4 linked regions of the Homo sapiens genome follow. The protein of the gene in region 1 interacts with the protein of each later gene in a biochemical or structural test. Each region holds a gene or a part of one and is shown on either strand. Other genes may lie near its edges.

Region 1 (7,136 bases):
CATTGTGTTAGCCATGATGGTCTCGATCCCCTGACCTTGTGATCCTCCCGCCTCGGCCTCTCAGAGTGCTGGGATTATAGGCATGAGCCACTGTGCCCAGCTCACTTTCAGTCTTGATTGGTAGTTTAGCTGGGTACTAGGCTTCCAATTATTGTCTCTTAGCACTTTGAAAGTGTTTTTTCATTGAAATTCTGGCTTTTTGTTGTTACTCTTGAGAACTATGCTTGCAAATTAACTTATTTTATTGTGGGTAACCTGTCTTTCTTTCTGTTTGTTTTTAAGATCTTCTTTGCTGTCATTTGTGTTCTGTACTTCCATTACATGGTGTGAATTTAATTTTCTTAAATCACTATATACTGGGGGCATATAGTAATTCCTTAATCTGAAATTTCATATCTTTTCACTAATTGTGTAAAAATTCCCAATCATTACCTCTTTACCTCTCTCAGATCTCATGCGTAACTTATGTTGAACTTCCTCATTCTGTCGTCTACATCTTATTCTTTCTTTCATAATTTCCATTTCTATCTTTCTGTGTTAACTTCTGGATAATTTCCTTATATCTATCTTCTAGTATACTAGTTTACTCTTCAGCTAGGTCTAATTTGTTTTTTGAATTCTTATTTTTATTAGCTAACTTTTTCATTTATTAGAAGTGCTCTTTGGTTCATTTTCAAATCTGCTTGTTTTTCGTGATCTTGTTTTTGTCTCATGTTTTCAATTTTGTGTCTGTAATAATTTTCAAGAAAGTTGAGTTTTGGCAGATGTCTACACCTGTAAACAGCAGCCATAATCAAGATACAGAGGATTTCTCTCACCCCCAAAAGATTTCTCATGCTTTTTTTTTTTTAAGATGGATTTTACTCTTATTCTCCAGGCTGGAGTCCAGTGGTGCAATCTCGGCTCCCTGCAACCTCTGCCTCCTGGGTTCAAGCGATTCTCCTGCCTCAGCCTCCTGAGTAGCTGGGATTACAGGCATGCACCACCATGCCCAGCTAATTTTGTATTTTTAATAGAAATGGGGTTTCACCATGTTGGTCAGGCTGATCTTGAACTGCCAACCTCAGGTAATCTGCCCTCCTCGGCCTCCCAAAGTGCTGGGATTACAGGCGTGAGCCACCGTGCCCGGCTCTCATACTTCTTTACAGTCCGTTTTTCCTTTCACCCTGATACCAGGAACCACTGATCGTTTGTTTGTTTTTCACTACATATTAATGTCTGCTTCCTAGAATTTTATTTTATTTTATTTTATTTTTTGAGATAGGATCTGTCTGGCTTTGTTGCCCAGGTTGGAGTGCAGTTGCAGGATCTTGGCTCACTGCAACCTCTGCCTCCTGGGCTCAAGCAGTCCGCCCACCTCAGCCTCCCAAGTAGCTGGGACTACAGGTGCACACCACCATACCCGGCAAATTTTTATATTTTCTGTAGAGACAGGGTTTTGCCATGTTGCCCGGGCTGGTCTCGAACTCCTGGGCTCAAGCAATCCACCCACCTCAGCCTCCCAATGTGCTGGGATTACTGGCGTGAGCCACTTCACCCAGCCTGTTTTGAATTCCTAGACGGTTTTTCCCTCCTTTCTCACTAGGTGAGCAAGGCAAGTTTTTTATTTCTCTCTGGACAGATTTTTTTTCCTAGTCTATTATCTTACTGAGTATAAACTTAAGAATCTCAGCCTCTGCACAGGGATCTCAGTGCCTTTTGTGGACTCAAGATCTGTCTTCTGAACCTATGAGGGTGTTACAAATTCCATACACGGCTAGGACAGCTATGTCATCAGCTCGCTAATCCTCCTCACTAATTTGTTTCTGGTTCCTGGGGATTTTTCTTACTTTCTTGAGAGCTCAGTTTATCTATATGTCAGTTCAGATCCAATCAGCAAAACAGAAACCACACAATAGAGTGAACTCCATAAAGGAGATTGATTTAAACCCTTGGTGGAGGGCTGAAAAAGCAGAAAGGGAATATTAAAGTAACTTCAATATAATAACTGCATAAAGAATTTTTCTCATCCAGGACTGAAAAACAAAGGGAGGAAGGTTGGGGCTACCAGAACCTAGAAGTCTAGAGGGATCTGGAATAGCTGTACCCAGATTCTCTGGAGAGGGTGTTACCTGGTGCTGCTGGTTTCTCAGGCCCTTATAGGAGGAACCTGGAGGAGCTGGCTTCTGTTGAGCCTTACTTAGCTGATGCTGGTGCCTTTGAGGGGCAGGAGGCTGGTTTTGGGAGTTTAGAAGGCAACTGGGAAGAACCAACTTCTGTTGTCAAGAAACACCAGGCTACAAGAAGGAGGAAGTCCCTTGTAGCCTTCTCTTGTCTTCTGTTTTCCCCTTAGCACCCCCTGTTGACAGGGATCCAGCTGGCAAATGTGAAATGGGGTTTAGTGGAGTCCAGGCCCCAGCATCACAAAGCGGAGCATAACAGGGTAGATTTGGAGCTGAGAGACAATACCTTAATAGCTGGCACAGTCTAGAAGGATGTTTATTATATTTTTCTGAGCACTTCTAGGCATATTTAGTAGGAAGGGCTTCAGGTTATCTGGTCTGTTTTTTGTATTGTATATTATTTTTATTTTATTTATTTATTTATTTATTTATTTATTTTGAGATGGAGTCTCACTCTGTCGCCCAGGCTGGAGTGCAATTGCACAGTCTTGGCTCACTGCAACCTCCGCCTCTCGGGCTCAAGTGATTCTCCTGTCTCAGCCTCCCAAGTAGCTGGGATTACAGGCACGTGCCACTGCAACCAGCTAATTTTTGTATTTTTAGTAGAGACAGGGTTTGACCATGTTGCCCAGGCTGGTCTCGAACTCCTGACCTCAGGTGATCCACCCGCCTCAGCCTCCCAAAGTGCTGGGATTACAGGCGTGAGCCATTGCACCCAGCCTGTTTGTTATTTTGAGACAGAGTCTTGCTCTGTCACTCTGGCTGGAGTGCAGTGGCGTCATCATAGCTCACTGCAGCCTCGATCTCCTGGACTCAAGCTATCCTCCCACCTCAGCCTGCTGAGTAGCTGGAACTACAAGTGCACGCCACTGTGCCTGGCAACTCTTTTTATTTTTAGTAGAGACGAGGTCTCACTATGTTGCCCAGGCTGGTCTCAAACTCTTGAGCTCAAGCAGTTCTCTCAAAGTGCTGGGATTACAAGCACAAACCACCACACCCAGCCTGGTCTGTTGTATCAACATTTAGTAATAGCAATAGGTAACATTTTTTTTCCAGCGTATATTGTGAACTAGGCACTGTTCTAAGTACTTTACAGAAACTACTTCTTTTTATTTTTTTTGAGATGGAGCCTCTCTCTATCACCCAGACTGGAGTACAGTGGTGTGATTTCTGCTCACTGCAACTTCCACCTCCCAGGTTCAAATGATTCTCCTGCCTCAGCCTCCCGAGTAACTGGGATTACAGGCGCACACCACTACCGTCTGGTTAATTTTTTTTGAGATGGAGTTTCGCTCCTGGTGCCCAGGCTGGAGTGCAATGGCGTGATCTTGGCTCACTGCAACCTCTGCCTCCTGGGTTCAAGCGATTCTCCTGCCTTATCCTCCTGAGTAGCTGGGATTACAGGCATGCGCCACCAAGCCTAGCTAATTTTTTTTGTATTTTTAGTAGAGACGGGTTTCCCCATGTTGGCCAGTCTGGTCTTGAACTCCTGACCTCAGGTGATCCACCTGCCTCAGCCTCCCAAAGTGCTGGGATTACAGGCCTGATCCACCGCAGCCAGCCTCGGAAGCTACTTCTTAAAGCTCTGTGAGCTAAGTTCTATTATTACTATTCTCTTTTACAGGGAAGGCAACTGAGGCACAGGTAGATTAATCTCCCCAAAGCCACACAGTTTATAAGTGGTGGAGTTGACATCCTAATCCAAGCATTCTGGGTTCTACATCCCACATTCTGAACTTCTACAACATGCTGAAATTTCTTCCCTGTGGCAAACCAAAATCAGTCTTCCTGTAACTTCCACTCATTAGTTCTGGTTTTGTATTCTTATAGTGGACTCATAAGTCTTTCTCCTCATCTATGTGAAAGCTATGCGTATATTTGAAAAAAGTTTTCTTGTTCTCCCCTGGCTAAAAGTGTGTAGTTCTTCCTCCATATTTGAAATGATATACTTCTAGACCCTTTGCCATGGTCATTGGTGTTCTTCCTCTGCAAGTCCTCTAACTTTGCTCTTCAAAGGTGGGGCATAGAGTCATCTTCTACTAATGCAGCTTAAGACTGCATTGATGTTTTGGGTAGCTCTGTCAGATTCATGGTTTACTGAGAGTGTGCTTAATAATGGCCTCTCCTCTACCTCCTACTGTGGGCAACTTTTTTTTTTTTTTTTTTGAGACAGGGTCTCGCTCTGTCACCCAGGCTGGAGTGCAGTGGCTGTCTTCCCACCTCAGCCTCCTAAGTAGTGTAGCTGGGACTACACCCGGCTAATTTTTTTGATTTTTAGTAGAGACAAGGTCTTGCTGTGTTGCTCAGGCTAGTCTTGAACACCTGAGCTCAAGCAATCCTCCTGCCTCGGCCTCGCAAAGTGCTAGGTTTATGGGTGTAAGCCATTGTGCCTGGCCTAGGCAGCTTTTTTTTTTTTTTTTTTTTGAGACGGAGTCTCGCTCTGTGTCACCCAGGCTTGAGTGCAGTGGCGCGATCTCGGCTCACTGCAAGCTCCGCCTCCCAGGTTCACGCCATTCTCCTGCCTCAGCCTCCCCTCCCGAGTAGCTGGGACTACAGGCACCCGCCACCGCGCCCAGCTAATTTTTTGTATCTTTAGTAGAGACGGGGTTTCACCGTGGTCTCTATCTCCTGACAGTGTGATCCGCCCGCCTTGGCCTCCCAAAGTGCTGGGATTACAGGCGTGAGCCACCGTGCCTGGCCAGGGGAATAGTTTTGACAATTCCTCTGGCAAATTGGAGGAGGAGCTGTCTAGAAAGGCCAGTATCTTGGGTCTCATTGAGGGGAGGAGAGAACCAAGGTAAAGGGTTGGCTATTAGGTAATCAGTCGCGGTAATAAGGGGCCATTTGGCAGAAGTAAAAATGAGGTATCTGATGGCTGTAGAAGGGAGAGAAGGCATTATTGCATAGCATGCTCCTGGGTTGAGGCCTCTGTTGGCAGCTGTGTCGCCTGCCCTTTCTGTCCTATTGAAGGGCCAGTTTCTTTGAAGTCTGCACAGGAAATACCAGTGATTCAGCCTTGCAGATTTCTTCTGCCTTATTGCAGCTGAGGACTGGTTTATCTGGTGAGGAGGAAAGACTGCATATATTTCAGGCATGTTTATTTGATACTTGAGTGCCTTCCTGTGACTGGCCAGAGACACTTGTTTTGCAGATTGTCAAATTTTTGGTACCCGGTGGCAAGGTGGATGCAATGTGACCTCAACTCTTGGTCCTCTGAGGTCACATTGTATCCACCTTACCACTGGGTACTAACGTGTGGGCAGCAGCTGCATTCTGCCTAGCGAGTGGGCATTTGTTCAGTGCCTGTACTTCTGTGATGGCCTCAATGAGGAGTGAGGTAATTGCCTGCTTTTCTAGATTTCCTGTGGTGTGACAATGTGAGTTTTGGAGAAACCTCTTATTCCCTAAGAATTTCCTACTATACCCCTCATGAGCTGCAGCAAAGTGGACTCTGTCTGATTGCTGACCTCCAAATGCCCAGTTTCCTTAGGTAGTGAGCAGATACCTAAAGTAATGAGTGCCTATTATATCTGTCACAGAGCTGAGTATATAAAAAAGTATATAATACAGGATTTCCCTCCTTACTAAATTATTTTATTTTGAAAATTTTCAAACCTATAGATATTTTGCAAAATAATGTAACAAATACTTATATACTTCTCATTTAGAGTCACTATTAACATTTTGCCAAATTTGCTGTCTATTTATCCTTCATTTTCTGAATCTTTTTGACTGTTAGATGTAAATATCATGTTATTTAATCCCTATTTCAGCAAGTATTTCCTAAGAAAAAGGTATCTTCCTATATAACTACAGTACTATTAACACTCAGGAAACTTAACATTGATTCAATACATCCAGTATATAATACTTGTTCAGATTTCTCATCTTTTCCCAGTGATGTCTTTTATTGAGTTTTTTAAAATTCAGGATTCATTGAAGGATCATGCATGTATTTATGCACTTAGTTGTCATGACTATCATGTCTTTAGTCTGCTTTAACTTTGAACAGTTCTTTTTTAATCTGAATGCCTTTTTGTCTTTCATAGCATTTGTCTGATTCTTCTTGATTAGATTCAGGTTAGGCATTTTTGGTAGAAGAACTATATAGATTAATACAATAGTTTGATTGATGAGGCTGACACTAAAATACATAGAAGCAGTATCTGATTTTGCAAGACAGTATATAATTTAGCACTTATTTGTGTTGTCTAATCTATAAACCCTATAGGAATTTACAGAAGAAGGAATTCAGTAGGACTTGGATAACTAGGAATGAAATACTTTGGCAGAAAGATGGGGTTTGGAAAATGAACAGAATTGGAGGCAGTTGGGATATGGTTAGATAAGCTGTGATTTGGGCTTCCCATCCTACTATTAAGGTTGTGTATCATGAAAAGTGACTTTGAGGGTTCTGTATCTTCCATGGTGTTTGCACTGCTAGAAGCCTAATGGTGTAGAGCTCTTGCTTTGGCATCAGACAGGTCTAGAGACTGTGCCCAGCATTTTGCCAGTTACCTAACCTTGGGGAAGTTTTCTCATTTGCAAGATAGAGTATTAATAACTATTTAAAAGGTTATCGTGATGCTCACAGTGAGACACTACATAAATATTTGAATTAAAATATTTGAATGCCTTTAGGGGGGTGCAGCGTTTCCTAGATCTGCCATGTGCCCCACTGGATCATTCATTTTGTTTTGTTTGGATACGTGGTTTCGCTCTGTTGCCCAGGCTGGAGTCCAGTGGCACGGTCTCAGCTCACTGCAGCCTCCCAAGTGGGTGGGACCCAGGCACACTCCACCACACCTAGCTAATTTTTTGTATTTTTGTAGAGACGGAGTTTTACTATGTTGCCCAGGTTGGTCTGGAACTCCTGAGCTCAAGCGATCTGCCCACCTTGGCTTCCCAAAGTGCTGGGATTACCGCTGTGAGCCACTGGGCCTTGCCTGGATAATTTGTTTCTGTTACCTGCCT
Region 2 (7,637 bases), on another chromosome or scaffold:
TCTCTGTGATTAGTGTGACATTTTCAAGGAAAGGACATGAGGCCAGGATTAGGCTCAGGAGTGAGAAAGCAACAAGACCTGGGAGAAGGGGAACTGGGTTCAGGGAGGTCGGCTACTAAAGTATTAAACCTGGAGGAAGAGCTGAAAGGAAAAGTAAAGTGCATCTCTTTGGAGAAAAGTGGGCTTTTGCTCAAGACTCCCCACAAACTTGAAGTCCCATGTGGATTGGCATGACCCAAGGCCCAAATCACTTTTTTTTTTTTTTTTTTGAGATGAGTCTCACTCTATCACCCAGTCTGGAGTGCAGTGATGCGATCTCAGCTCATTGTAACCTCTGCCTCTCAGGTTCAAGTGATTCTCCTGCCTCAGCCTCCTGGGTAGCTGGGATTACAGGAGTGTGCCACCACACCCGGGTAATTTTTGTATTTTTAGTAGAAACAGGATTTCACCATGCTGGCCAGGCTGGTCTCCAACTCCTGACCTCAAGTGATCCGCCTGCCTCGGCCTCCAAAAGTGCTGGGATTACAGGCGTGAGCCACTGTGCCAGGCCCCAAATCATATTATTCCCCCTTTTTCCCTCCCAATATTCAGTCCTCTGACAGAGAGGCTAGACATAAAATGCTCCTTATTGCTGGTGCCCACGGCTGTCCTGACCCTGGTCATGAACTCTTGCTCAGTCAGTGAAGCTGAATGAATGAGTTCATTGCCATGTAGGGCCAATTGGCACTAGATGCTTGGAAATTACCCACCTTGGAGAGGTTGTAAAATAGATCATGTCCTAGTGCCACCAGCAACTTAGCTTTCTGGGGGGTCAGGAACTCTTACCAATTGCTTTGGAAATTTATGGCTGCCTGCCAGTACCACCACCAGCATGTCACTGCCACCATCACCACTACCACTGCACTCTAACTTTAGGCTCCATTGCACCCTGCTTGCCCACTCAAGCCAGCAAGGGGAAGCATCCTCCCTGGTGAACTCAGAGCCACTGATATGTTTGTGATTTCACAAACATTCATGACAGCTCCTAGGTCTCGTCTCCTAATTACATAAAGGCAAATGAAATGCAACCTACTGCAACTATATTTCAAAGCCAACATTTTTCACTGGATACACTTAAATTATACAATAGATTTTTGAATTTCAGAGGGTAGGAGAGGGAATGGGTAACAATTGGGCAGTGACAAGATGGCTGGGGTGACTTTTCAGGTTGCCAGAGGCTTCCTAAGGGTGAAGAGAGGGAGAAGAGCAGAGAGAGAAAACCCATAGCAGCAGCTGGGGCAATCTGGAGGGGAAGTGGGTTGGCTTCCTGCCAGGGCCAGAGCCAGAGCCTAGAGACCAGGGACAAAGCTGCAACCTTCCACCGAAAACTTCTTTGAAATCGGGATCTCCTGTGAACATTTCCTTCAAATCTCCCTGTGTGCTGATCCCCAGGGCTCTAAGGGGCAACTACAAATTTCCATTTCTGTTTGTTCCAGCATTTACTTTCACCAACCACCACCCCCCTTTTTTTTTTCTGAATCAGTCTCACTCTGTTGCACAGGCTAGAGTGCAGTGGCGTGATCTTGGCTCACTGCAGCCTCCGCCTCCTGGGCTCAAGTGATTTTCGTGCCTCAGCCTCCTGAGTAGCTGGGATTACAGGCACACACCACCACACTGGCTAATTCTTGTATTTTTAGTAGAGACAGGCTTTCGCCATGTTGGCCAGGATGGTCTCGAACTCTTGACCTTATGGGATCCACCCACCACGGCCTCCCAAAGTGCTGGGATTACAGGCATGAGCCATCGTGCCTGGCCTAATTTTTGTATTTTTAGTAGAGATGGGGTTTCACCATTTGGCCGGGCTGGTCTCAAACTCCTGACCTCAAGTGCTCTTCCCACCTCAGCCACCCAAAGTGCTAGGATTACAGGCGTGAGGCACCACACCCCGCCTGACCCTGTCTTTTCACAAACATTTCTCTTAGCCATCAAGGTCACATTCTGGGTCATAGGACATCAGAGGCAAGATGGTTCAGAGTTACATTGATGATTTGATGGCATTCATTCTCATGGCTTCCACCTATTGCCCTGCACATGTTGGAAGAATCAGTGGCCCACCATTGCTAACAATCCTAGACACTGGTTTCCACTAGGATGTGTTACTCTCATCTTAAATTCAGTATCTTCAAACTACGATCACTTTTCTTTCCTCCAAACCTGCTCTCTTCCCGACTTCCCCATCCTGGCTCAAATGCTGGAATCTTCCCTCGTGTCTCCCTTCATCTGGTCCCTCATTACTCAGGCAGTCACCAAGCCTCATTACTCAGGCAGTCACAAAGTTCCCTGCCTATCCATGGTCACTGTCACCACCAGAGCCCAAGTCTGCATCACTTTGCAATGTAGAATTTGGAAGGGACTTTAGATGACACATAGACTCCCAGTGGTGTCATGGGATTTGCTGGGTCATAGTGACAGGAGGAGCTGGGGCTACATTGCCTGTGTTCTGACACCGTATTCAGCGCTCTCACCCACAATACCTTCTTTCGTGTATGTGTATATGCTTCTACTCAAAAACTTGCAATACAACCTCATAACCAGTCATTTGAGCCTCTCCCTAATTTGTCCACAATCTACCTCTCTGAATTTCGGTCCCATTTTTTCCTGACACAAAAAAAAGAGCTAACATTGATTGAGCATTTACCATTTGCCAGACACTGTTCTAGAATGCTTTACATGCACTGACTTACTTAATCCTCACAAAGTGGGATGGAGAGTCCTGTTATTCCTGTGTTACAGCTGAGGAGACTGAGGCAGACCGCTCTTCCTGAGCCTGAAATCTCTCTCCTTGCCTTGTCTCTGTTCTTGACTCCTGCCCCCCACCCCCGCCCCCACCCCAATGCTGTTCAGCTTTTGTCTTTTCCAGCCTCTCCTCTGACTGTCTCCAGCAGCCAGCTGTCTTTTCCCTCCTCCTAGCTGGAACACACATCATCCCTCTGTCCTGCCCCTTGGCACTTTTTCTGTCCTGGCTTGTGACGGTTCTCTGTTTGGGGGCTTGTGTCCCATTCTCCAACAACCTCAGTTGCTCCTTAGTGGACAGCGTCTGGGTCTTACCTATGCCTTTGCTACCTGGGCACCTCCGCAGTGCCTGGCACACAGCATTCTCCTGTCTCCTTTCTGTCTAGTGCTTCTGTTTCTTTCTCCCAAGCATCCCACCAGCTGGAGACCCTGGTCAAGAGCTGCGGGTCAGATGGTGACGGGGACCAAGCTTTTAGATCAAGGTGGCGCAGGTGGAACTTTCAGGTCAGGCTGACGGCTCTTTGCCTGTCACTGAGAGCTATCAGACTTGCCTCCAGGCCAGGGACTGACTTCCTTTGGTGCTCTAAAGATAGGTCCCGATTTACCTCACCCCCACCCTCATCCAGTTATGGCCTGACCATCACCAAAACAAGCCCAGGACCCATTTTCATTTATCCCTTTAAGAAAGGTTCTTTCTCTTCCTGCCCACGTGCCCTCTACCGCTTGACAGAAGCCTGCTCCCCATTGCCAGGTGCTTTTCTTCCTCCTCCTCTTCTTCTTTTTTTTTTTTGAGACAGAGTCTCGCTCTGCCGCCCAGGCTGGAGTGCAGTGGTGTGATCTTGGCTCACTGCAACCTCCTCCTCCCGGGTTCAAGCGATTATCCTGCCTCAGCCTCCTGAGTAGCTGGGATTACAGGCGTGTGCCAACATGCCTGGCTAATTTTTGTATTTTTAGTAGAGATGGGGTTTCACCATGTTGGTCAGGCTGGTCTCGAACTCCTGACCTTGTGATCTGCCCACCTCAGCCTCCCAAAGAGCTGGGATTACAGGCGTGAGCCACCACACAAGGCCCTTTCTTCCTCTTCTGTCATCTGTGGATTTCCCATCTGCCTCAGTGGAGTCCTTGACCTTTTCCTCCCTGGCCCAGCAGCACATTCTCCTCTCCTCCTTTCTCCCAAGTCACTGACCTAGTATTTAGTGTGTGTTCTCAGCCTCACCATTGACTTGCTGTGTTACCTTGGACAAGTCACTCTCCCACTCTGACCTCAATTTTCACATCTCTAAAAGGAGACTGCTAGACTAGACGGTGAGTGAAGTCCTGCTGAGCCCTCCGAGTTCATTCTCCCTTGTCCAGTCAGTCCTTCCCTCCCACCCTCCCCTCTGGGCTCCCTCTCTGGGGCCCTCTCCCCCAGGGGAGGCCTGCTCCAGCCCCAGGGGAGCTGCGGCCCTGGCTCCTGTTCCCAGTCGGAGTGACCAGCCCTGGGCCTCCTTCCCAGCTTCGGCCCTGGCTCCATGTGGCCCATCTGAGAGGCTGGCCTCAAGCCCGGCGGCAACTCCACATTTCTGTTTTTCCTTTTTTTTCCCTCTTTCCCGGAGTTAACAAGAAGCAGATGTGGCGCACGATGGTTGGAGAGGTGGGGGGAGGAAGGGGGAGGCCGGACCGCCAGCCAGACAGGGGGGAAGGGAGGGGAGCCAGCAGGGAGGAGGAGGCCAGGGCCCGCCCCACAGCCACTCTCGCGCCTCCGAACAGCCACAGGGGCAAAGCCCTGTCACCCCCAGGATCCGGTCATCAGGGAAAGAGGACAGGGAGACCAGAAGAGGGCCAGCTGGGACGAGGGGGCGGACGCCCAGGAGGCAACTTCTGAGACGCAGCTCCTGAGAGGGGCAGGGACCAGGCGCGGGAGGCCAGAGGGGGCACAGAGAACAAACCCCCTCAGAAGTGAAGAGGAGAGCGGAAGGAACCGAGAGGGGACGGACAGGAGCTGAGGAGGAAAGAGGAGGGGAGAGGGGTCAGGCCAGGCAGCCAAGGAGAAGACGTGTGGCCGGGGGCTATCAGAAGGAAACTGGGACGGACGGGCCGGGCTCGGGCTGTCCTGTGGAGCAGCAGCATCCCCGGGGCCGGCAGAGGCGCCAGTGGCTGGGCGGGATGAGTCTCTGAGGGCCACTGTGGAGCGCCCCGCCATGGCCCCCCGCACCCTCTGGAGCTGCTACCTCTGCTGCCTGCTGACGGCAGCTGCAGGGGCCGCCAGCTACCCTCCTCGAGGTTTCAGCCTCTACACAGGTTCCAGTGGGGCCCTCAGCCCCGGGGGGCCCCAGGCCCAGATTGCCCCCCGGCCAGCCAGCCGCCACAGGTAAGAGTCTGGATCCCAGCCCGAGGCTTGGGTGGTGAGGAAGGGGTCAGAATGCCACCTCTGCCTGGCTCTCTGCTGTGTCCGCTAATGCAGGGCAGAGGGGGAGTGAGAAGCCCATCCATCAGGTGGCTCCTCACATGCCCACCTTCCCACGGGGCCTTTTCCAGGACCCCCTGAACACATATGTTCCTTGGGTCACCTAGGGGGTCCGCTCCCACATGCCCCAGGGAAGCTGCCCTGAGGGGAGCGGGCCAGGCCTTCCTGCCAGCTGCCCTCTGTATCCTAGCCCCAGAGCCTCAGGGAGAACTTTTGTCCCCTTCTAGGGCTCCCTTGACCCCATCCAGTAATCCATAATTCTGACACCACTCCAGCTCTGTTCCCTCCAGCCCTCCAGCCAGACACAGATCAGAGGCCGGAGTGAATGGGGCCAGGAGTATAGAACTGCAATCCCCAAGAGGGGCAGGCTCATCAATGGCTTATTCTCTACTTAACCCCAAGCTGGCCTGCCCGTCTTCTCCTGGAGGGGTGGGGTGGAAGCCAGTGTTCAGATCACCCACAGGGCCCGGGCTGGCTATGCGCACACAGCATGCCAATCTGGGGACTGAGACAGGCCCAGAAAGGGACACACATGATTGTGTACATTCAGAGGCTCCCCGGGACCCCACCACCATGAGGATTGACTGCTCTGTGGTTTTCCATTCTGCGCGTCTCCCCATCTTGAAAAGTCTTTATCTGCTCCTGCTACACAGGAAAGCGTGGGGGATAGGGAGGGTGGCGATGCCAAAGCCCTTGCTCTCACTGATCCCCAAGGGTTCTGCATCTTTGGAGCCTTCTTCAGCCCCTCTGGTAGCCCCTGGGCCCTCCTCCAGGGCATGTATCTTTGGTCCTTGGACCCAGAGGGGGTTGTACCTACAGGAACTGGTGTGCCTACGTGGTGACCCGGACAGTGAGCTGTGTCCTTGAGGATGGAGTGGAGACATATGTCAAGTACCAGCCTTGTGCCTGGGGCCAGCCCCAGTGTCCCCAAAGCATCATGTGAGTCCCAGGGCCGGGCAACGGGCCCTTGGTGGGAACTGGGCGAGGGCAGATGGTGGGTGGCTGACTCAGGGAGTCTGTATGAAGCAGGGAGCAAGGGCAGGACAGGGGCTAGGGTCACAGCCATTTTGAGGAGATACTGAGACAACAGTTTGGCTGGTGGGAGACTGAGGGCAAACCTGCCTCACGCGCCAGCCCCAGATGCCTTCTCTGGGATGGCTCAGGCTCAAGCAGAGGAGTTCAAGGTTCCAGCACAGGGCAAGGGAAGGAAGAGCAGGGATTTAACCCTTGGCCAAAAAGCTGACAGCTGTCAGCTAAGCAAGGCCACATGTTGGACAGTAAGAGGGACCCAGCCTGAGGGACAGGCCATGCCCACCAGCAGCTGCCCACCCCTGAGGACAGGGACCAGGGTCACTGACCGTACAGGGAGGAATAAAGAGGCCTCCTTCTGCCTCTGCCAGGTACCGCCGCTTCCTCCGCCCTCGCTACCGTGTGGCCTACAAGACAGTGACCGACATGGAGTGGAGGTGCTGTCAGGGTTATGGGGGCGATGACTGTGCTGAGAGTCCCGCTCCAGCGCTGGGGCCTGCGTCTTCCACACCACGGCCCCTGGCCCGGCCTGCCCGCCCCAACCTCTCTGGCTCCAGTGCAGGCAGCCCCCTCAGTGGACTGGGGGGAGAAGGTGAGTGTGGGAGCTGCTGCGAGGGTGGCAAGTTCCAAATGGTGATCCAATGCAATGGGAAATGTGGGGCCAGGCTGCTGGGGGAGTCCCCCGTGCTCTATGCCAGAGAGAAGAGAGGGGCAGAAGGGTTAGTGAGATCGCAGAGATTCCCTGCCCGTGTGTGTGTGTGTGTGTGTGTGTGTGTGTGTGTGTGTGTATTTGTGTGTCTGTGTGAGAGAGAGGGAGAGAGCACGCAAAAGATGGAGAGACTGAGAAAAAGAAGGCCAAAAAAGAGAAGGTGCTCGCACACGCCCCATGTGGCCAAGATCCTTCAAACAGCTGCAGGAGAAAGGGGCATTCCTTTGAGAAGCTTGGTCCGTGGGGACAGACAGTTGAGACTACAAATCCTAGCATGCATTGCACCTGACTACAGATCCCAGACCCCTCCGTGGCCTCTGGAGACCGCAGGTCCCAGCATGCAGCAGTTCCTGTGGCTTGCCTTCCCTCCTGCGTGCTGCACACCGGATGTGCTGTTTCCCTGCCCCGAGATAGCCTTACTATAATTATGCAAACAGGAACTCCTGGCCAACTCTCACCGTCCACAGAGCCTCTTCTTTGTCCCCGTGGTGTTGCAGGGAAGTGTCACCCAGTGGTAGCTACTGTTGTGGCATCCAGAGTGCCTCCCTACACTCCCATTTCGCCCCTCTTGACAGCCCCATGACAGAAGAGTGTCATTATCCTTTCGCAGAAGAGGAAAGAGTTTCCAAGAAGTTAAGAGGCACTCTGGGCAGGTGGAAAGGACATGGACCTGGGGGCTGG
Region 3 (7,136 bases), on another chromosome or scaffold:
ATGAAAATGGAGATACAGAGGAGTGAATTGTTAAATAAAAACAGGTATACACAATGGTGCTTTACCAGATGATCTCATTCTTAACTCTTTGTATCCTTTTCTTTTTTTTCAGCATGTTGACATAGCGGCTTTATTGATAAAATACAACACGTGTGTAAATGCAACAGATAAGTGGGCGTTTACTCCCCTCCATGAAGCAGCCCAGAAAGGAAGGACGCAGCTGTGCGCCCTCCTCCTAGCGCATGGTGCAGACCCCACCATGAAGAACCAGGAAGGCCAGACGCCTCTGGATCTGGCAACAGTAAGTCCTCATTTCAGATACTGATTATTGTTCCTTCTACTTTCACAGATGACATCAGATTCTCGGGTTCACCAGCTTACTTTTAGTCGTGTTTATTTCACTTAGAACAGAGATCTTCTGAAAATTTTTGAAGTTCACACTTTTTCTATGAAAATATAATTTAAAACTCTTAAGACAAACTAAACAGTAAGTTAATTTAATTTTTTGCCATTCTTAGCCTGCTGGGAAAACATGGATCTTAAGAAAACATGTTTTTAGAGTGTACCCTCAAAGAATTATATTTAGTAAAATATCTTGTACCTTCTATATTTGGCATGTTATTGTAGAGCAACTAATGTTCATGATAATTTACCTAAGTCTGTGAGATAGTCAAAGAAAAATTAACTCTGGGCAGTATTATTTAACTGCAAAGTTAAGCACTGCATCATCTTCCGTGAACTTTCTGAAAACCAGGGAGTTACTGTATAGTCACAGTAATTTCTAATTTTTAAGCCAGAAATGTTTTTTCAAGTTATGTTCTGTTTCATTTATTGATTGCTGCGTAACAAACTGTTTCAAAACACCCAGTGGCTTAAAATAATAATGACTTATTATTTCTTATGATTCTGTATGTTGGCTAGGAGATTCTTCTGGTCTTACCTGGGGTCACTTGTGCAACTGCATATAGCTGGTGGCTGGGGCAGAAACATAAAGACGGCTTCATTCATATGCCTGGGGCCTTGACAGATACAACTAGAAGGCAGGGGCCTCTCTAGTCCCATGTGGCATCTCATCATTAAGTGGTCTTGTTAGAATTTCTTCACAGAATAATTGTATCTCAAGAGGGAGAAAGCAGAGGCTGTCATTGTTCTTTAAGGCTAAGCCTGGAACTGACATGCTGTCACTTCTGCCACATTCTGTTGTGCAAAGCAAGTCATGAAGTCAGCTCAGGTTCAAGGGATAGGAAAACAGATTCCACCTTCTTTGAAAGGAGAAGCAAAAATTTCGTGGCCATCTTTAATCAGCCACAGTCTTCCCTGTGAATACAAATTAAATCTATTTTTCCCACATTCAAATTACACTCACCTGCCACGTGCTCCCCCCACCAACAGGGGGCAGATAGTCATCACTGGGTCCTTAGCAATTCTAAAATTCAGCCAGACACATGTTATCAGGGCCATCTACTCTGGAGTTAGGGAATGATCCCTGATTAGGGCCCAGTTCTGCTCCCAGGGAGTGGTTCACTGTGGCTGTCTTTTTTTTTCCTTTTTTTTCTTTTCTTTTTTTTTTTTTTCCCCCTTAAGACACAGTCTGGCTATGTCACCCAAGCCAGAGTGCAGTGGCGTGATCATGGCTCACCACAACCCCAACCTCTTAGATTCAAGCCATCCTCGTATCTCAATCTCCTGAGTAGCTGGGACTACAGGCACATGCCACTATGCCTGGCTATTTTTTTTGTTTTTACTTTTTGTAGAGACAGGGTCTTGCTATGTTGCCCAGGTTAGTCTTGAACTTCTGGGCTCCTCCCTCAGCCTCCTTCCTCAGCCTCCCAAAGTGCTGGGATTACAGGTGTGAACCACTGTACATAGCCTCTGTAGCTCTTGGCCATGCCCTCTGAATTATCCTTCTCTTTTCATAAGAAATGGATCATATTTACAGCCAAGTGGCTTTCTCAACCTGTTCCCTGCTCCTAGAAATTTTCGGGACCCTGAGCCTTTTATCATTTTGATCTACCTGTCCCTTTTAGTCCAAACTAGTACAACTCTTCCTTTGTAAACTTTTGGATTTCCCATCAAATTACACACCACTCCATCAGCCAAAAGCTCCACCCACAAATCTTTTCAAGACAGGTCCCTCTCTAACATGGAATCCAAGTAAAGGTGCAGTGGGACAATGCCCATAAGATCCTTTGAAGCTCTTTCATCTAGCCAAGGGAATTCACAAGGTACCACCTTAGAGGTTTTTTAAAGATTTTGAGGTAATATATCTGTACCTCTAGTTGATTTTTATTCTGAGGCCATGTTTTCCTGTCAGCACGCTGGATTTGACCTTTGGCCTGAGGCTGTGCCTTACTTGAAGAAACTTTTGCTGATGGAGAGGCTGGGAATGGTGAATAATTTTGTTTTCTAAGCTAGCAAATGTTAGGTGAATACATTTCCTTAAAGAGAACTGGACAGTTCCTTTCTCTCTTCCTGTACCTTATCATGGGCAGATAAACACACCAGTCCAGTTGACAAGGCAGAATTTGTTCTGGAAATTTCCTTAGCCAAATTTACAAATTTATTTAGGTTTACGTTCTACCTTCCGTAAGACCTCCTGTGGCAGCGTTGCCAAACTTTCTGCTACACAGCATTAGTCCCCTTTCTCTCGCCTTCAGTAGCACTTGCCTATCTATCTTCCATTCACAGCCTCCCTCAGCAATAACCAGGCCACCCTTCACGCCTCCAACCAAAGCCACATGTCCACCAGCACCCCACTTCCAGGTACTGGTGTGCATTTCATTTCTCTATTGCTGCCCACTAAGCCACCCCCAAACCCACTGAGGGTTTAACGTGACAATTTATTATTTCTCACACGTCTGGGAGTTGACTGGGCTCAGCTGGGTGGTTCTGGTTTTGCAGTTACCTGCACCTGGGAACTCAGCAGAGGCTGGAGCTTCCAAGATGGCCTTTCATCCCGCAGGGCTCTCCCTGCATAGGATCTCACCACTCAGTAGTCTAGCCCAAACTTCTGTACAACATGGCAGATGGCTTCTAAGAGAGTAAAAGTAGACACTGCCAATCCACTTAAAGCCTGGCTCAAAAGCCTCAGAATGTCACTTCTTCTCCATTCTATTGGTCAAGACAACTCACAGGGCAAACCACATTCGGCGGGTAGGGGGCAGAAATTCAAGGGGAGGCATACATGACGGGAGGAAGGAATTGATGGGTGGCTGTCTTTGGAGACTATCTCCCGCATACTCGAAAAGCAGTTGCATCTAATACTTAAAAACTGAAAAGTTTATGAATAAATGAGCTAAATTAAAGTGTCATCCCTTTGAAATTTCACCAGATGTTAATTGTACATGAAATTATTAAGTGTGAAGTAAATAACCAGATTATAGCTGTTTAAACGTAAACAAAATATAGTAAACACAGAAATTTTTTCTAAAGAAGGGTGACAGTTAACACTGAAAGTGCTTTTTTTTAAATGAAAGAAGAAATATCTTTAAAAATTACATAGTTTCTCCAATTCTGTCTACTGAAACTATTGAAACTCTTTGGAGCTGTGGATAGGAGAAGGAATGATCAAAAACCAGTAGGTGATAATGAGGCATTCATTAAGGAAAAAATCCACAAAGTATTTGGTTATCAGTGAAAAACTTACCATTTTAATATATAGTATTTTCATGGTTTTTGTTTTTAATCATTTTTTTAGGCTGACGATATCAGAGCTTTGCTGATAGATGCCATGCCCCCAGAGGCCTTACCTACCTGTTTTAAACCTCAGGCTACTGTAGTGAGTGCCTCTCTGATCTCACCAGCATCCACCCCCTCCTGCCTCTCGGCTGCCAGCAGCATAGACAACCTCACTGGCCCTTTAGCAGAGTTGGCCGTAGGAGGAGCCTCCAATGCAGGGGATGGCGCCGCGGGAACAGAAAGGAAGGAAGGAGAAGGTGAGTAGACCCCATGAATGCTTATTTATTTATACCTTTTGTTAGTGGAGCAGAATGACTTTTTTCTATTGATAACTATTGAATGCCTCAATTAGAGACGTCCTGTCTGTAAATTTTCATACACACAACATCTTACAAGAAATATTTCTTCATAGAAGGCTGCCACGTTTCTTGGCATTGTCGTTGTTCTTATTTCTGTATATTCTAGAGCATCTGTTTACAACCATAGCATCTTATTGAACCACTTATACTGAAATTGTGTCAGAACACAACTGAGAGGTCATTTCAGGAATGAAAACTAAAATGATAGCTGATACATTTAGATTTTTTAATTCATTAAAAGCTTTAGATGTTTCTATATAAGTAGCATTCTGTAGTATAAGAATTATACTATAATGTTAAAATTAGTATAATATTCTCTATATTTTTATAAATTACAATAAGTTATAATTCTATATTCTAACCATAATATTAGAATACAAATACTAATTTGATAAAGATAAAACACTCTGTTTTTACTTCCCAATCAACTTCAGAAATAAAGTGTCTAAATTAAATCTGTGTATTCTGTATTATTTTATGCCATGGAAAATCATCTGACAGCCAAGGTTGTCAGAGTCATGTCTAAATGGATACTGAAATTTTCTTTATATTTAGAGAATTCTTTCTGAGAATCTTTAATATGTTTCTGTTTTAGTTGCTGGTCTTGACATGAATATCAGCCAATTTCTAAAAAGCCTTGGCCTTGAACACCTTCGGGATATCTTTGAAACAGAACAGGTAAATACTCTTGTATATATTTGAGTCATTTAAATTAAATACTAAGATTAGGCTGGATGCAGTGGTTCACACCTTACTCCCAACACTTTGGAATGCTTCGGCAGGATTGCTTGAGCCCAGGAGTTTGAGACCAGCCTGGGCAACAAAGCGAGACCCCCATCTCTACAAAAAAAAAAGTTTTTAAGTTAGCTGAGCATGGTGACTTACTGGGCCCCTGTAGTGCTAGCTGCTGGGAAGCTGAAGCAGGAAGATCATGTGAGCCCAGGAGTTTGAAACTGCAGTGAGCTGTGATTGTGCCACTGCATTCTAGCTTTGGCGACAAAACAAAACCCTATCTCGAAAAAAAAAAAAAAAAGAAAGACTTATTAATTGCCACCCACCTCTTCCTCTTTTGCTTCTTACGAGCTATTCTTAAACCCACAACACATTTCTATAAGAAGCCAGAGGAGCCCAGTATTTTATACTTCTCCCCAAAATTGTCTAACAAATGAGTCTTTATTTTATCTTTATAAGCAGTCTAGCACTATGCATTTTATTACATGTCAAAACTTAGACCATGCAACTACCTCAAAAGAATGTTTTCATGATTGTCCTTGGTTGTTTGTTTCCGAAAAATGTCAGTCTTTATTCATCTCATTTCATTATTCATGTGACTAGGCTCCTGAAGCAGTTGCCCATTAATTTGGAAAGCACAGTAGTACTTAGACAACTGCACTTTTAAAAAATTGCCCCTTTATGAAGTTTCTGTTGTCCACTTGGAGTCTTAAATAATATTAAACCAAAAGTTGGCCATACATTCCAATAGACCCACCCTATTTTGGGATCCATCTTAAATGTCTGTGAAGGTCTAAGGATGGAGTCATCATTAGGGCATTTATGAATTAGGATTCTTCTGTTTGTTTTACTGTTTTCATACAGGATAAGGAGTTGTAATATTGTATGCTTTCATTATTATGATCAGCTTTAAATATTGAATGATGGTAACTCCTGAATTTAAATGGACTATTGATATACATGAAATTTAAGAATGGGAAAGGTGTTTAGAGAAAAATTATTCTCCCAGGTGTAGGGATCACCCTTGTATAATAACACCCATGTTAGTCCTCCAGCCAAGGAAGATATCTTGTTACAATTTGGGACAGGTGTAATAGAATGCTTGTAACTTAAAGTGTGCCAAAATCTGCCCGTAGGTATAATTCCTTTGTTTTCAGCTTACGCTTACGCTTACCCTGTTTTGCACAGAGATCTAATCTCCAGTCTACATATGTATTCAGTTTCAGAGGACTATACTCCCTACAGAGGCTGTAGGGGAGAATCTATTCCATGCCTCTTCCTGCTTCTGATGGTTGGCAGCTTCCTTGGCTTGTGGCCATGCTACTCCAGTCTCTGCATCCATCTTCACATTGCCTTCCTGTCCTCTCTATCTCTTCTAAGGACATTTGCATTGAATTTGAGGCCACCAGTATAATCCTGGGTGATCTCCTCATCTCTAGACCCTTAACATAATTTCGTCTGCAGACACTTTTCTTCCAAGGAAGGTGACATTCACAGGTTCTGGGGATTAGAACATAGACGTATCATTTTGAGGGCCACCATTCAGCCCACTACAACATAATATGGCCCTAGATATCTTTTTAAGACCTAGTCAACTTATCAGAGGTGTCACCCTTTCAATCACCCACCTCTACACATCTTCCCCTATTTTAGAATAAATCTGTTTTTTCAATTATTCTTTATATGACATAATTTTCCAGTATTTCACTGGCACCTTTGGCCCATTATGGTTCCCTTCTAGGCTTATAGTCAGTTTGGAGTTAACTTAAAAACCAGGTCTTTTTTCTTATTTATATCAATTATACTGTTAAGATTTTTTTTCTGCTTTCTCTCTTTTTTTTAGCTACATTTTTTCATTATAGTTCATCTTTAATGCTCTTAATGATAAGAACAGCCGAGTAGGGATAGCACTGGACTAAAAGAAGACCTTAATTCTAATTATTTTTACCCTCTTACTAGCTGTGTAAAATTGGGCTGAATGACATTTATCCTATCACTTCCTTTACCTGTAAAACCTAATGCTTATAAATGTTCAGAGAGTTAAAATCCTCAGTAATATTGTGCTGCTGTGTCAGCTTTTAATACAGTGATGCATCACAGGTGCCTTTGCGTCTAATGGTTAGGACTTTATAGACTGCTGTCTATAAAATCATTTTCTTTTCCAACCATTTATTCATCCTCTGGTTTGGAGCTTTCTTAGGACAATATCCTAAATAGTAAGACTGCTTCATCCTTATTCCCTAACTGAAGGTGTGAAAGCTGATTTAAAACCATTATACTCTGCTGTTCCCATATTACAGCTATAGCTGTTCTTCCCAAATCATTTCCACAATAATTGTAAAATTTCAAACACATCTTTGCTAAATA
Region 4 (7,534 bases), on another chromosome or scaffold:
CAGGGCCTCCTTAGCCCAGTCCCCACTGTGGCCTCGGGATGTGTCCAGAGCCAGCCCATCTTCCCTAAAAGCCAATGGGAGCAGGGAGTCTGGTGTTTCCCCACTTCTGGGGGACCCTGGCCAGGAAGGAGAAGGCCAAGGCTAATCCTTCTCTGAGAGCTCCTAGTCAGTACTTATCTACCCCTACCCCTCAGCACTATAGTAATATTCAGTCCACAAAGCCACCCTTGCCTCACCAGGCACACACACACACACCCCTCACACACCTCTCCACCTGGACTGGCCCTGGCCTACCAATGAATTGCCTGGCTCCACTGGACACCAACCTGGTACTTCCAGATATTGCCCCCAGTAAATGTCATGGTAGAAAGAAGGGCTCTGGACTCAGACCGCCTCGCACTTTCCAGCTGCGTAACTTTAGTCCAGTGACATAACCTCTCTGAGCCTCAGTTTCTCCTCTGTAAAAAGTGGATAATTAATCACATCTATCTGACAGGGTTACTGTGAAATGACTCAAAGCACTTCTTGCAGTACATGGCATACAGTAAGTTTCAATAAATACTATCACTTTGATTGTGTAATCATTGGTATTTATCTCCAGGCAGAGATGATCATCCTCCCCGCCCTTTTTTTTTCTTTGAGAGGGAGTCTCGCTCTGTCTCCAGGCTGGAGTGCAGTGGCACGATGTCGGCTCACTGCAACCTCTGCCTCCTGGGGTCAGGCGATTCTCCTGCCTCAGCCTCCCGAGTTGCTGGGGCTATAGGCGTGCACTACCACGCCCAGCTAATTTTTGTATTTTTAGTAGAGACGGGGTTTCACCATGTTGGCCAGGATGGTCTTCATCTCTTGAACTTGTGATCTGCCCGCCTCGTCCTCCCAAAGTGCTGGGATTACAGGCGTGCGCAATGGCGCACGCCTGTGTCCCCTTTTAACAAATGGGACAGAGAAGCCCAGAAAGGGGCTCTTAGGGAAGTCCCGGCAGGTGCTAACAAGCACCTCCCACCACAGCCTGAAGTCAGAAAACTCTCTGTTGCCCCCTGGAGGCTCAGGCCAGAACATCCCTGGGCACCTGGCATCCTCTCAGCTCTATGCACTTCCAAGAGGGTCCAGGACCACCCACGGCCCTTTCTCTCAGCCCTGACCTCTCCTGCTCACCTACTGAGGGCAAGGGCTGGGAGGCCAACATAACACCCCTCCTAAGGGATCAGGTAGCCTCAGGCTCCAGGCTACAATGCCTAGCCCTTGGCAGAGTCCTGTCTATAGCACAACCACCGCAGCAGGGAAGCCAGCACCTGAGCTGCAAGAGCCCCAGAACAAGAGGTGGAAGACCTGGGTACATTAATGCTGACTCCCCCGCTCAGCTGCTTTGTGACCTTGGCCAAGTCACTCTTACTCTCTAGGCCCCGTTCAACCTTTCAATATCGACTGAGTGAGGACTACCTGACCAAGCATTGTTTTCATGCAGGATTCTATGGAAGAAGCTCTTCAAGAAGCTCACAGGGCTGAGCCCAGGAGGACTGTCACATAGCCCAGGAAGGGCTTTAATAGGAACAATGCCCTCTGCACTGATCTCCTCCAGGACTGCCTTGAGGTGCCCCTGAAATCCCAGGGACTGTGCTCTGCATGCCATAAATACTATGCCTGGGTTGCCAGGCAGGCATGACCTCAGGCTGGCCAGGAGAAGCCAGCTCCATCCTTGCACAGAGCTGGCAGAGCCTTCCTGGGCCACGGTGGCTCATAGGGGAGGCTGGCACAGGCTGCCTCTGCCGCAGGCTCCATCTGGAGGAATGGGTGGGCAGAGAGGCACACAGCTGCCTCTATTCTCCACACCCTTGCCCGGGACAGGAGGCACTGTCTTCCAAGAGCTGCGGAGGGCACCATCCAGGCCCCAGATCTTGACCTGGCTCAAGTGCCACTGATTCTGGAAGGCTCCTAATGCTGAGGGTGGGGGGATGGGGTGGGAATGAAGCCAAGCCGCTGGACCCCGCACAGCCCTGGAGAGGTCCTAAATCTGGCCGTCTCACATTCCCACCTTTGGGTGCAGAGGAGGTGCTATGCGGATCCAGAAGTGAATGTGGGAACACGTGGTGCTCTCTCCCCCACCAATGCATCCTCAGAGCTCCGAGGGAAAAGCAACGACGATGGCTGGCAGCTGAGGGAGAGACCAGCATCCCCAGAACTCCCTTTTGGTCCTTGTCCAGACTTCAAGGTCTCCATGGACCACTTTGAGCCATATACGTCTGCCAGTCAGTGGCCTCTGCACCCAGTAAGTACCCCAATGGCTGTAGACATTGGCCCCCCATGCCCATCCCTGAGACCCCAGCCTCTCGGGCCCTTGGACCTCCCCAAGTGTGAAGGTGCCAGACACAAGTGGGACACACAAGCCCTCTCCCTCTGATCAGGGGACGGTCACTGGCCAGGACAATGCCAGGCCAGAACTGCAGAAGTCCTAGGGCTAAGATCCCTCCTAGCAGCTCTGAGGTACTTGGAAGGGAGACGGAAGGGGAGGCAAGCCCAGAGCGGGGAAGGGTCCGTAACCAGAGTGAGGAGAGATGAGGGCAAGGGCTCGCCAGCATCCCAGGCTCCAGCCAAGAACTCCTCCTGCAGCGTCAGAAGCAGCAGAAATCCAAAGAGCCCTTGGCCTCTGGAGGCGGCAGCAGGAGTGCTCTCCGAAAAGAGACTGGGCCAGCCGGTGGGAGCCCAGCGCCCACCCACCGCTCATCCTACAGCAGGACCAACCCCCCGCCAACCCCCAGCCTCCGGATCCTCTCTCCAGGCCTTGGAGGAGGCTGCAGACCGGTAGGTAGGGAGGAACAGCGAGACCCTCCCCCACACTGGCCAGGGGACCAACAGCCTGAAAACTCAGTTCTCGGCCTCGCCCCCGTTCCTCCCCAGGGCTGGAGGCTGGGCCTAGATGTTGCAAGCCCCCGGCCCCGAGAGCCACCTGATTCCCCCATGTGCCTACCTGGGCCCGGGGTTCCCCATGTCGGGCAGGTTGGGCGAGGGGCGGCCCCCTCGGCTCCTCTGGCAGGCAGGCCGCGGGGCGGGGCGGCGCGGGGTCGCGGCGGGCTCTGCGGAGCAGCCTGTTCGGCGACACCCCCGCCCGCTGATGGATGCCGACTGCAGCAGCGGCGGCGGCGGCGGCGGCTCGGCGTGCGCCAGGGGCTGGGCACGGTGCCCACAGCCCCGGGCCTGGCGCCCGACGCGCGGCCAGCCCCCGCCCCCGCCCCGGCCTCGGAGCCCAGCCCAGGGGCGGCCGCCGCTTGCGCCTGCCTCCCAGCGCGCCGCGGCCCTGCCCCTGCCTCCGCCTCCTCTCTGCCTGTCTCCTCTACCACCCACCTCCCCCCGCGCCCCGCCCTCTCTCTCAGGCTCCCAGGCCACCTCCTCCCGGTCCGTGCCACACGGGCAGTTCCCAGACCACTGCGGGACTGTGCAGCTGGGGGGCCTCTCGAGCGCCCCGGCTGCCCCCACCCTGGTCCTAGCCAGCCCCGGGCCTCCTTGCTCTCGCCAAGCCCTCTTGGGGGCTCATCAGCGAGAAAGGGAGGGGGAGGAGAGAAGAGGGGGATGCATGCCTGACTCAGAAGGGGTGACTCAGCCTCAGTGGGCCTCCCATCCCACCGGAGCCGGATCCCCTCACCACCCCTGCAGCACAGCGACAGGGCAGAACCCGCCTAGGACTCGGCGTCCTCCCCCACCGGGAGGAGGTATTACAACTGTCTCCTGGGAATCCTCTGTGCCTCTGAGTGTGTCCAGAGGGTGTCTATGTGTACATTTGTCCACATGCGCCTTGGTGACAATGACAGTAAGTGTAACAGTGAGAGCCCAGGGACCTATTGGGGATGGGGCCTGTGTACAGGCGCACTTGCTGTATGTGTCTGAGCACAGGCTGAGTGTGCACCTGAGCTCCAGGAAAGGGCAGGGGCTGGCCAAGCAGCTTGTGGCAGAGATCATGGCTCAAAACCAAGGTAAGCCATGCTCCTCCCCTCCAGGAGCACTGTTACCCACTAAAAAAACCAGTCCAACCACTGCAGCACCTCCATCTCACACAATCCGAAGGTGGGGACCTCAAGCCACAGAGGACTCTGGGAGGGAGAGGGCCTGGGTTCCAGTCCAGGTCTGCCACTGGCTCAGCAAGTACCCTTGGGCAAGTTGTTCCATGCTCTGGGCCTCATTTGCAAATGACGAAAGGGCTGGACGTTCCTATCTCTAGGGTCCCTAGTTCATGGCGAAGGCATAGAGAGAATGGTGGGTAACCGCAGCATGATCTCCAAAGATTTCTGTCCATGGGTCCACTGCAACCCATATGACCGCGAACCCCCAGTCACCACCCTCACCTCCAGGCATACACAACTATTCATTCATTCTTCACATCATTCCTAAGTACCTACCATGTGCTGGCCATAGTTCTTACCACAGAATCCACTGCCCTGGGAAGCACAGAGGCCCCAAGCTGGGAAGCAGCCTCGATGTGAGCTGAGCCCTCCATCCTTCCCTGATGCGATTCCCTCAGTATCAGCCTCACCAGTGGGCTCTCCATCTCTGCTTGTCACACACTATAGAGCCAGGCACCTCCCTCCCCCAACTCCTCCCTCCCAGTGTGCTGCTCCATCATGGTGACCTTCTACCCTGGGTCCTCATAGGCACTCTAGGGCCTCCAAAGAATGAGGCTATGCCCTCTCCTCAGCACCCTTTAGAGAACTCAAGATACAATTGCGTCCCTTTGTACCATGCCCAAAGCAAGCCTTCTCTTCTCCAACTTAAACCTCCTTCATCAGGTGTCTTTAGACAAAGCTTCCGGTGCCTTCACTCCCCCTGCTCACCAGGTTCAGCAGCGGATGAAGAGCAGAGAGCAGAATGAAGCCAGCTTCTCCCAGTCCTAGAGAACAGGCCCACCCTCCAGACAGAAGGTGGGAAGACAGACAAATCTGCCCAGGCCGACTGACAGAAGGACGAGTGTCCTGCTTGGCAGCCTTCTGTACAAATCCTGTCCTTTGCCTTTGGACTTCTCATCCCCAGGCCTTTCAAATTCACTTTTTCCCAGGAGCTCCCAAGGGAGTCTCACACAGGCCCCTGGGGCCGTGGCCTTGGGCAAGTCACTTTGCCACACAAGGTGCTCTGTTTGAGTTTAGCTCACCACACATTTATTTAAATGAATGAGTGAAAGGACCAATAAAACTCAGGAGTTATACCAGATGCATTTATTGTTTCAGATGCACAGCTGCTAAGAGATTCTTGACTGCCTGCCTTCAAGTATTTTGATTCCAAATAGGCTCAGTCTCCCCTGCTGGCTGAGCCTTCCCAATCGTGGGCTCCCGTGGGCAGGAGGCTCTGGGCTGCATGGCCAAGGCTCTCTCTGTTCCTCTTAGTTCAACTCTCCTTCCCTGGCCATCTCCCTTTCCTTCCTTCCCCCAGGCTGAAGCCCTCCCCACTCCTCCCCTGGGGCAGGGCCACTTTCCCACCCTCCTCAACCAGATGGAGCCTCTCACTTTCCCAGGAGAATCCAGGCTACACTCCAAAGACCGAGGCAGGATGTTCCCAGACATCGTTCTGCATTTATACCCAAAGGGCTCAATTCACTTCAGGTCATTGAGACCACACAGAAAATGAGGCTTCTGCTATTTTAATTATTTTGATTATTATTATTATTCACTAACATTTCTATTAGCACTTTCCAGTTTGCAAAATACTTTTGTGTGTCATCTGCACAGCATCTTGTGAGATAATATCATCCCTCATCTTTTTTTTTTTCTTTTTTGAGACGGAGTCTCGCTCTGTTGCCCAGGCTGGAGTGCAGTGGCGCGATCTCGGCTCACTGCAAGCTCCGCCTCTCGGGTTCACGCCATTCTCCTGCCTCAGCCTCCCGAGTAGCTGGGACTACAGGCGCCTGCCACCACCATGCCCAGCTAATTTTTTTTTGCATTTTTAGTAGAGATGGGGTTTCACCATGTTAGCCAGGATGGTCTCGATCTCCTGACCTCGTGATCCGCCCGCCTCGGCCTCCCAAAGTGCTGGGATTACAGGCGTGAGCCACCGCGCCCGGCCCCCATCTTATAAATAGGCAGGCTGAGGCTCAGAGTGGGAGTGACTTGCCCAAGGTTACGCTTACACAGTTACACTGGCTCCCTGGACTACATACTTTCCACTTTACCCAACAATAACCCTTTCCAGAAAAATCAGGCTGGAGGAAGCAGGAGAGACACTTAAGAATGTATGGCCCCCATAGGCATCAGTTGCAATTACTACTTGAGTTACTTGACTGTTTTCATTCCCCAGGCAGGGAAACTGAGGCACAGGGATAGGACTCAACCTAGGACCAAGTCTCATGGAGAAAGAAGGAAAGAGGAGCCCATCCAAAAAAGGGGTTCCTCAGTTCCTTAGCTGCAAATTCTGCTTCCAGCCCTAGCGCTACCATTTCTTTTTGTATTACTTAGGCAGGTTATTTGACATCTCTGAGCCTCAATTTTCTCACCTATAAAATGGGAGAATCCCTGCCCCATGTCTGTCACTGGGCTGCTGTGATGGGAGGTCAGCAGATGCTGGCAGAAGAGAAGGGACAGGACCCTTCATTCCCTCTCTGCTCTGTCTAGGAGGCAGGAGAAATTCTTTCCTCTTAAATTTTAACTGGATGGAACTTAATGGTGCAAAAGTCCAGGATACAGGAAAGCCAGGAGGAGAACGGAAGTGATTCGCTCCACTGGCTGGGAAAGCAAGGGACACAGAGTCAGCCACAGACCCCCAAGGTCACTGCGGGGCAGAGATTCAACCAAACACTTCAGGCAGGGCCCCTCCTATCTCCCTTTTATCTTTCAAAGGAGGAAACCAAGGTTCTAAGCAAAGCAGTGACTTGCCAAGGTCACCCACAAGTAGTCAGTGGTCTCCTGACTCCCAGCCACCAGGGCCCTTGACTACTGGGCAAGCAGGGTGGGGTGGGGAGCACTCCCAGCCCAAGGACTTAATCTTTCATTCAGCAAGCAGTAATGCTCACACCAAGCCAGGCCCTGGACACTGGGGAAGGCTGGAGGAATTGAATACAGCCTCTGCCCTTGAATTCACAATCAATCTAGTGGAGGCACGTACCCCAGCACATCAGAGGATACTAGAAGGTGAAGCACCACCATTTTCTGAGCACTTCCTCTGTGCCTGGCACTGGACACACATTCATTTGTTTAATCCTCAAAGCAATTCTCTGGCACTGAAATTATTAATCCCTTTCACAGCTGAAGTAACTGAGGCTCAGAAGGGTTAGCGACCCCAAAGTTCATCCAGCTAATAAATGGCAGGGTCGGAATATGACTGACAGGTATGTCTGGTGCCAAACTCTGAGCTTCAACCCTTATAAACTCCCTGTTTTTAGGTCTGTGCTAACCAATATGGTAGCTACTAGCCATGGCTAGTTGCTATGGAGCACTTGAAATGTGGCTCGTTCAAATAAAAATGTGCTGTAAATATAAAAATCAGATTTTGAAGATTTCATACCAAAAAGAATGTAATATGTCTCGGGCATGGCTCACACCTGTAATCCCAGCACTTTGGG

Evidence for each region.
Region 2: the proteins of NUMA1 (region 1) and EMILIN1 form a complex in vitro, tested with the Homo sapiens proteins (one study listed by BioGRID).
Region 3: the proteins of NUMA1 (region 1) and TNKS form a complex in vitro, tested with the Homo sapiens proteins (one study listed by BioGRID).
Region 4: the proteins of NUMA1 (region 1) and EPB41L1 form a complex in vitro, tested with the Homo sapiens proteins (one study listed by BioGRID).

The regions. Positions count from the first base shown.
Region 1 is NC_000011.10:72,070,499-72,077,634, reverse strand, and holds part of NUMA1 (nuclear mitotic apparatus protein 1), read left to right. Parts: intron 1-5,332; exon of another isoform or gene 5,333-5,407; intron 5,408-7,136. UniProt on the Homo sapiens protein: Microtubule (MT)-binding protein that plays a role in the formation and maintenance of the spindle poles and the alignement and the segregation of chromosomes during mitotic cell division.
Region 2 is NC_000002.12:27,074,114-27,081,750, forward strand, and holds the start of EMILIN1 (EMILIN-1 precursor), read left to right. Parts: upstream 1-4,501; 5' UTR 4,502-4,952; coding exon 4,953-5,122; intron 5,123-6,037; coding exon 6,038-6,157; intron 6,158-6,618; coding exon 6,619-6,839; intron 6,840-7,637. UniProt on the Homo sapiens protein: Involved in elastic and collagen fibers formation. It is required for EFEMP2 deposition into the extracellular matrix, and collagen network assembly and cross-linking via protein-lysine 6-oxidase/LOX activity.
Region 3 is NC_000008.11:9,747,912-9,755,047, forward strand, and holds part of TNKS (poly [ADP-ribose] polymerase tankyrase-1), read left to right. Parts: intron 1-112; coding exon 113-301; intron 302-3,697; coding exon 3,698-3,935; intron 3,936-4,632; coding exon 4,633-4,715; intron 4,716-7,136.
Region 4 is NC_000020.11:36,150,328-36,157,861, reverse strand, and holds the start of EPB41L1 (band 4.1-like protein 1), read right to left. Parts: upstream 3,123-7,534; 5' UTR 2,966-3,122; intron 2,800-2,965; exon of another isoform or gene 2,608-2,799; intron 2,267-2,607; exon of another isoform or gene 2,102-2,266; intron 1-2,101. UniProt on the Homo sapiens protein: May function to confer stability and plasticity to neuronal membrane via multiple interactions, including the spectrin-actin-based cytoskeleton, integral membrane channels and membrane-associated guanylate kinases.